3 separate regions of the Homo sapiens genome follow, and regions 1 and 2 are each linked to region 3. The links come from fine-mapping of genetic effects on gene expression. A gene starts in region 3. Each other region holds a variant in brackets. All regions are shown on one strand. Distances are between the middles of the regions.

Evidence for each region.
Region 1: its variant is fine-mapped to the expression of ATPSCKMT in skeletal muscle (GTEx, PIP above 0.99).
Region 2: its variant is fine-mapped to the expression of ATPSCKMT in fibroblasts (GTEx, PIP above 0.99).

Annotation. Positions count from the first base shown.
Region 1 is chr5:10,225,443-10,228,204 of GRCh38, reverse strand. ATPSCKMT (ATP synthase c subunit lysine N-methyltransferase) reads left to right here. Exons shown (of 5, transcript NM_199133.4): 5 at 558-2,698. The coding sequence ends at 764. Among named protein-coding and RNA genes, the nearest start is that of ATPSCKMT, 23 kb to the left of the region's middle. The variant C/T (reference allele first, on the strand shown) is at 1,478.
Region 2 is chr5:10,490,694-10,493,455 of GRCh38, reverse strand. No RefSeq gene overlaps it. Among named protein-coding and RNA genes, the nearest start is that of LINC02212, 11 kb to the left of the region's middle. The variant G/A (reference allele first, on the strand shown) is at 1,329.
Region 3 is chr5:10,248,319-10,251,080 of GRCh38, reverse strand. It overlaps ATPSCKMT (ATP synthase c subunit lysine N-methyltransferase), which reads left to right and starts at 1,193. Exons shown (of 5, transcript NM_199133.4): 1 at 1,193-1,223. The coding sequence starts at 1,208. CCT5 (chaperonin containing TCP1 subunit 5) reads right to left here and starts at 801. Exons shown (of 11, transcript NM_012073.5): 1 at 636-801. The coding sequence starts at 740. RefSeq lists silencers at 204-343, 414-483, 1,234-1,293, 1,304-1,423.

The DNA of each region.
Region 1 (2,762 bases), 23 kb after region 3:
GACAATTAGTGTTGTGTGATGTGTCCTGATTTCAGAGATGTTAAAAATGTGCAAAAATGTGGCTGGGCGCAGTGGCTCACGCCTGTCATCCCAGCACTTTGGGAGGCCGAGGTGGGCAGATTGCTTGAGCCCAGGAGTTTGAGACCAGCCTGGGCAACATAACAAGACCCCTCTCTCTTAAAAAATGGTGGAAAAATAATGTCTTAAATATATGAGACTAGGTATATTGAAGTGTTGAAGTGCGTTATTTAAAACTGCTTCTTATTAAAATTACTGCCACATCCTGATTTTATTTAGAAAACTATAAATCTATGATAGACATCTGCTAAAAATGGCATATTTTATAATTAATACTAGAAGGTGTTCTTACAACTGCTGTCAGTGTATCTTCTGTATTTCAATGGATTGTTTGTTTATGTGTTTGTGTCCCAGAGTGCTCTTTTTAACAAGTAGTAATTTTTGCTCAGGTATTTTCAGGGACTCTTAAAAACAGGAAATTTTGGGATCATTTCCTCTGACTCACTGCTCACTAAAATAATAGCTGTTACTCTCCACAGATGCTGCAGTTGGAGAAGAAACTTGAACGTGAACTTGAGGATGATGCACGAGTTATTGCTTGCCGGTTCCCTTTCCCACATTGGACTCCAGACCACGTCACGGGGGAGGGGATAGACACAGTGTGGGCATATGATGCAAGCACTTTTAGAGGCCGTGAAAAGAGGCCCTGTACATCGATGCATTTCCAGCTGCCCATTCAAGCATAAACTTGACTGGGAGTGTTTTTCTGAAATATTGTAGTCTTCCCTGATCTTGTAGAGACTTACAGCTGTGTCCTTAGCAAAGGAGCATAATTGTCTTTGGTTTGGAATGAGAAATTACTATTACTTTCCTTAACTGTTGGAGAAAACAAACGAAGAAAAACAGGTAGATTTAAAATCTGCTTTTGATGCTATTTTCTTAAAAATTGTACTTACTGCCTTTCCATGCACCTGGATGCATGAAAAGATGAATAAGTGATGGTCATGGTTATGGGTAGGAAAATAAGATGCCAATAGCTCTTCACATTATAAACAATATGGCTTAATGCCTCGATAAGGAGAAATGATTTTTAAAGACAGTATATATTACCAACTGTTTGTAGTATCCTATAACTTTGTTCATACTTAAGTTGTATCTCTTTCCTTTTTGTACTTCATGGCAAAATTAATTTTCTAAAGGATTCAGAGAGGCGTTTATATTTTATAACATTTATTAGAAATAATTTGTTCCACCACTAGATTACTGTATTTTATGGAATCTAAGCTGTATATGTGTACATTTGTATACATGTATGTGTAAATGTAAGCCTGACGTGGGTTCAGATTCCAGTTTTGTCATCAGCAAGAGGCCTCGGACCCATGACTTACTGCCTCTGAGCCTTGGCTTTCTGTGTATCTCTGCCACTGGGATAATGGTACACATAACAGTGGAGTGGGGA[C/T]CAATTTCTAAAACTCATGGCACCTAGTCTTTGGTCCATAAATGGTGTTTGTTATTTTAGACACTGAGAAAAATCTTATTCACAGAAGTTGCAGATTATTTCTGCTAGTCACTTTTTTATTTCTTGAGAGCTGCCACTCATTTAATATTTCTCATTTATGAGAAGAGACTTGACTGATTTAGATAAAAGACGAATTAAGGAAAACCTTTGAACGTGAGTAGACAAGCTTCATATATCTGTAAAGTGAATATTGAATGGTAGCTTGAGTCATTCGTACTTATCACAGAAAAGAATTGAACTCCCAGTCATACACCTGTAACTGAAATACCAAACTGTCTTAATGGAGATGTAATGAAGTAAGATGGTCACATCTTTAACTAAACTTATAAAAATTGGTCAGTTTGATCATTTTCATTTAAATGAGAAACATCTGGGGACACATTCATTCATTCAACAAATATGTATTCAGTATCTACTGTAGAAGAAGCTCTGAGATTCTGCGGTAAATAGACATGCAAAGCCCCTGGCCTCATGGAATTCCTATTCTGGAAAGGAGAGACAAACAAATAAGCAAGGGAATCTTAGTGTGTGTGGAGTTCTCTGAAGTAAACAGTGTGATGGTGTAGAGAGCACCTGTGTGAGTCTGAGATGAGGGGATGTGATGTTGTGGACTTCAGCCAGGTTTTTGGCAGCTAGTGTCTGTCCCTTTTTCAGTAGCTCCAGTCTTCTTATGAAGAATGAGTTCTTTCTGTGGTGTGTGACTTTAGTGGGAGGGCAGCTCTTGCTCTATGCCTCTCAGTTGCCTTCCACTGTAACCAGTCCTGTAACTGGTCTGGGCACACTCGGAGGGGGATCCATGGTAGCTCCTTGCCATGAAGATGTGGGTAGAGGAGGGTTCTGTGGGGCCTCGGAGGTGTTCAACATTTTCTAGAAGTGTTCCTGGTGGGTTTATAGAGGCATTGATATGGTTTGGCTGTGTCCCTACCCAAATCTCATCTTGAATTCCCACGTGTTGTGGGAAGGACCTGGTGGGAGGTGATTGAATTATGGGGGCAGGTCTTTCCTGTGCTGTTCTCATGATAGTGAGTAAGTTTAATGAGATCTGATGGTTATTTTAGGGGGGAGTTTTCCTGCACAAGCTCTTTTTGCCTACTACCATTCACGTAAGATATTCCAGCCACATGGAACTGTAAGTCCAATTAAAGCTCTTTCTTTTGTAAATCGCCCAGCCTCAGGTATGTCTTTATCAGCAGCGTGAAAACAGACTAATACAGTAAATTGGTAT
Region 2 (2,762 bases), 240 kb before region 3:
AAGAGGAAGGCACATCAGAGGAGAGGCCATGTGAGGACACCATGGGAAGGCGGCCACCTGCAAGCCAAGGAGAGGGGCCTCAGGAGAAACCAGCCCTGCTGACACCCTGAGCTCCTTGCAATTCCAGCCTCCTAGACTGTGAGAAAATACACTTGTGTTATTTAAGCCCCCCAGTCTGTGGTTCTTTGCTGTGGCAGCCCTAAGAATCTAATACACATGCCAACCTGTCTAGGCACAGATGGCCCATCTTCAGGGAAAGGATGCAGGGGGATCTGCAGGCCTGCCGGGGCTGAACCAGGAAGTTGTGCCCTCAGCAGTGGAGGCAGCCTCTCCCAACCCCAAGCCTCCAGCCCCTCCCCTCGTGACATGCATGTTCTGAGTTCAGTCTGTTTCCAAGCTCCTTCCCGTGCCTGTGGAGTCAATGTCACCCCCAGTCTCAGGGTATCCTTGCACTGATACGCTCCACTACACCCTCACACCCACCCCGTGGCTTCCTGAACTGCACCCCCAAGTGAACCACTCTGCATCTGGCTTCTCCATCAACCACGTGCCCTGGAGTCCCTCTGAGCTGTCCATGTGGGCAGCCTCCTTTTGAAGCCTGGAGTGGGTGAGTGTTGAGCAAAAGGTGATGGCAGGGGCTAGAGCTCATTTCATTCCTGAGTAAGGGAAGCTCTAAGATTCCTTCTGTACCATAAGTGAGTGCTGCCCTGCCTGGGAGGGTGCACACCCTGCCCTGAGACTACTGCCTCAGAGCATGGGCAGCTGGTCAACCTAGGCATTGCCCATGCCTCCCACATGGGTGGGGGGCAGCCCCACCGCCCCTCTGTTCATCTTCCATTGACCTGTGGAGTCTCAGAGATCTGTCTTGATTTTTTTTAGACAGTCTTGCTCTGTCACCCTGGAGTACAGCGGTGCAATCTCTGCTCATTGCAACCTCTTCCTCCCAGGTTCAAGTGATTATCGTGCGCCAGCCTTCCAATTAGCTGGGATCACAAGCATGCACCACCATGCCCTGCTAATTTTTGTATTTTTAGTAGAGACAGGGTTTCGCCATGTTGGCCAGGGTGGTCTCAAACTCCTAACCTCAAGTGATCCACCTGCCTCGGCCTCCCAAAGTGCTGGGATTGCAGGTGTGAGCCACCACACCCAACCTGTCTTGATTTAATAGTCATTCAAGGTGCTCATTTCTTGACTGAATGACTACAAGAGCAGATATAAATGAACACATGCAATCAGTCTTGCCCTGGGTCTGAAGTAGGATTCTCAGCACCAGCGACATTTGCACTGGATCATTCTCTGCGGTGGCACTAGCCTCTGCCCTGCAGGAC[G/A]TTTAGCAGTACCCCTGGACCCCACCCACTAGACGCCAGCAACAGTTCCCTGCCCCAGTTGTGACAACCAAAAATGTCCTCGGACATTACTCCAAGCACCAAGGTTGGGAACCGCTGTTCTCAAGGTTTCCAAATGCATCTCACGCCATAGGTCTATGCACAGAATAAATGAATCATTCACTGTTGACCAATGAAGGCTTTGTTTGGAGACAGGTGTTATAACAGCAGGAAGAAAACTCCCCAAAGGAAAAGTGTGCTATCAGCTGAAGCATCTCCCAAGTCCAGCTCTGCACCCCCACGTGCATCCCCACACGAACGTGTTGCCAGGAATCAACCGAACCCCTGTTTCTCTCGCAGAAAATTGGTGGGAGCAATCCTCGCTTGCGTGTCAGGATGCCTGTCCAGGTGAAGCCAGCATGAGTCTCTCCAGATTCTAAGGCAGTGATGGGAAAGTGAAGGAAGCAGAAATGGCCAAGGGCCATCCTCTGTCAGTAATTCACTCTGTCAGCCCTCCCTAAGCCGGGTGGTGGGTGTTATGCATCAGGACGCCGGGCTCTGGTGGGGTAATGAGAGGGACTCATAAGTGGCCAAGCTGTGACTCAAACCTGGCAGGACTCCCACTGGCTTCACTCTGCCCTCTTAAATTCTACAATTAGAGCTCCCCAGGAGAGAGCAACCCATTGACTTAAATGTTCACTCACCTGTAAACAGGTGACATGAGATTTTCTCCCATTCGTGGGTTTCCTGATGTCAGGATGGAGCACAGAGCAGGGGCCGTCGGGCACCTATAGGCTGAAGGGAACCCTGGGTAGAGGATAGTGTACGTTTGTTTCATGATGTTGCCAGGAGCTGGCCCTTTGCTGTAAACCAGGTCCTGTTTTGAGCGTGCTGGGAAGTTCAGAAGCAGAGTTCCATAGACACTTCTGAGATGCACAGGCACCTCTCCTGCCTAATGTGGCCAGGAAAAATTGCCCTGATAAAGCCAATGACATCATAGATTAGAACCTGAGGAACCCGCAGCCTAGTAGTTCCCGATCTTGCTGCCTATTAACATCACGGGGACGCCTTTCAGAGCTCCCCAGGTGATGTTAATGGCAGCAAAATCAAGAACCACTGTGAATAGGCAGCAATCGATGTCCAGGCCACTCCCCACCAACTAAATCAGGGTCTCCAGGATGGGCTCATGCCTCCACGGTTCCTGGTTCCCCAGGTGCAACTGCGACCTCCCTCAGTGATCCAGTGTGGGCTTCTCACACTTTAATGCACATCTGAACGAATCGGGGCTCTTGTGAAAATTTGAATTCTGGCTCAAGAGGCTGGGATGAGCCTGAGATTCTGCTAGGAGCTAGGAAAAGTGTGATCCAGAGCTAGGAAAAGTGTGATCTTGGATGCTTGTCATCTGGGAGCTTGTTAGAGGTGCAGGATCTCAGGCCC
Region 3 (2,762 bases):
CCTCTCACCCCGATCTAAAGCTGTCCTCCAGCACCACGCTTATGTGCACCCTCTCCGTAGCTGTCCTTCTCACTGCACACCACCTTGTATTACGGTTATGTGCGTCCGTTTTTCACTCTTCGCTATTTTTCCTCAAGGGTGGGCAAAAAAGCACTCAGAAATGAAATACCCTGTTAAGTGACCACACCTTTACGAGTGACAAAGAAAACGGAAGGGCCGTTGCGGGTGGACCAGCGAAAGGTTAAGCAGCAGCGCCTTAACCGACAGGTGACAGAGCATCTCCCCGGCGCCCTCCCACTGGAGCGCAGTCCCACGCGGCCGTCAGGCTGGAGGAGCCGGGCGGGGAGGCGGTCCCGCTTTGCTCCCGCGGGCGACCGGACTGAGCGGCCCCACCCAGCTCCGAAGGGCGCTGGCGGCCCAGCCTGGCTGGCCCCCACATTCCGAGCCCAGGATTAGGCGCCGGCGTCTCCCGAGCTCAGTAAGCGGGCTGAGCGGCCGGAGACCGCAGGGAGACGGAGATTCTCGACCTTTCCGGGGAGCACATGGCAGAGCCGCTCCTCAACTCGCGCAGGCGCAGAGCCACGGCCTCGGCCACCTCCCCTTAGCCCACCGCGAGCAGGTCCCTGTGCCATTACCTTGAGGGCCTCAAGTCCCATAAGACGGGACTTGCGGTCCTGATCCTTGATGATGAGGAAAGGGCGCCCATATTCATCGAAGGCGAGGGTCCCCATGGACGCCATGGTGCAACAACCGGAATTACTTCCCCCCAACCGGCGGAGACCGCTACGGAAGCGAGAATGCACTTCCCTTTCTCGGGAGGGCCCAAAAGCTTGCGCACGCGCAGCACAAGACGCGCGGGACTTATGTTTCTACTGAGACTAATTTCACGCCAGACAGTATCTTCTGGAATCGGCGGCCTTCGGGAACTTCTATTATCCAGGAAGCCGGGGAGGGGGAGGTTTGAAGACACTTAGTGGAAATCTTAGGACACACAAGTCAAGAGCAGATTGAATTTGTCATTTTTTAAAACGTTACCACTGATAGTTTCTCGATAGTGGGTCCCAAGGAGGAATTCATTGACTTAAAGCACTATTTCTTTATTTCTTCGCACTCCGGCTCCGAGAAGATGGTAGGACCCATTTCCGGTTTTTTTTTTTTTTTTTTTTTTTTTTTTTTTTTTTTTAAAAACGCTGTTGGAAATCTCGCGATGGAGGGAGGAGGAGGTGAGGCTGGAGCGGCTTGGCGGGTTCCTGGGGGCATGAGAAGGGGTGCGGGCGGGCCGGGGGCTCGCGGTCAGCTGAGGTCTCCACTGTCGAGGCGGTGACCGGGTGCGGGCGGCTGCTCTGGCCTCCAGCCTGGCCTTCGGTGACCAGAGCTCCTGGTCGCCGCGCGGTGCCCGCGCCGGTTCTGGCGATCCTTGTCGGCGGGCGCGTTTCCCCAGAGACTGTTCTAGGCTACTTAGTGCAAGTGACTCAGCCTTTGGCACGATCTTAAGGAATAGGGATAGTGGAGGCACACTGATGGATTGGAATCGCAGTTCTGCCGCTCTTCCTAGCTGTGGCTTTGAGGAAATCCCTTAACTTCTTTGTCCCTCGGGTTCCCTGTCTGCAAAGTGACGGTGGTAACAGTAGTGCCTACTCACAGGGCTGCTGTGAGATTCAAGGAGAACGGTGCCTGGCAAGCTGAACACAGTGTTGGTAAATAAATTAACATTTTGCACAAATGGTTCAGTAACTTGCCACTGGTATACAGCTAGTAAGAAACAGTTACACAGCCTGATGCAATGGGTCCCACACTCTTTTTTTTTTTTTTTTTTTTTGAGACAAGACTGTAGCCCGGGCTGGAGTGCAGTGGCGCGGTCTCGGCTCACTGCAGCCTCCGCCTCCCGGGTTCCAGTGATTCTCGTGCCTCAGCCTCCCAGGCAGCTGGGACTACAGGCACAGAACCACCACGCTCGCTAATTTTTGTATTTTTAGTAGAGACGGTGTTAACGCCGTAGTGGCCAGGCTGGTCTCGAACGGCTGACCTCAAGTGATGTACCCGTCTAGGTCTCCCCAAGTGTTGGGCCTGAGCCACCGCGGTGCCCGGCAGGTCTCACTCTTAAGCCCTGTATTATGCTGCCTCAGAAAGATCTTGGCAACCGCAGCTGTCCTCTAAATCTCTTATGCTGCCTTCCTCCCCGCCCTCCAAGATCATGACTTAATATTTGATAGGTTTAGATTTATTTGTTGAGGGTTTCCATCCTTGCTTCTCCCCTACTGCCATGGGCAGGGACTTAACTAATAAAGTTGTATTATTCCCAGACTTTATTAGGCACTCAATAAGTGCTGAAATGAATACATGCACTATAACATTTGACCCTGTCCTGAAACTCAAGAACAGACTTGGCGACTGTGTTCCCATCTACTCTGGGGCTGAGGCAGGAGGATGGGTGGAGCCCAGGAGTTCAGTTTACAGTGCGCTATAATCGCGCCACTGCACTCCATCCTGGGCGACAGAGCGAGATTCTGTCTCTAAAAACAGGGAGGACTGACTGTCATGGGATGGTTGGTGATCTGTTAACTCTTCATGCTTGGCATACTTACGCGCTAGACCTTGAAGTGTTCTTCAAGGACATTTTAGATTTTGGAGTCAGGTCTTATTTCACGTTAGCTTTGCCAATTCAGTGTTTCCTCATTAAAAATGGTGACTTCTGCAATTCATTTGGCTCCTTCGATTGTTGTGAAAAATAGAATGTCCTATGGCATCCTCTGTGTAGTTGA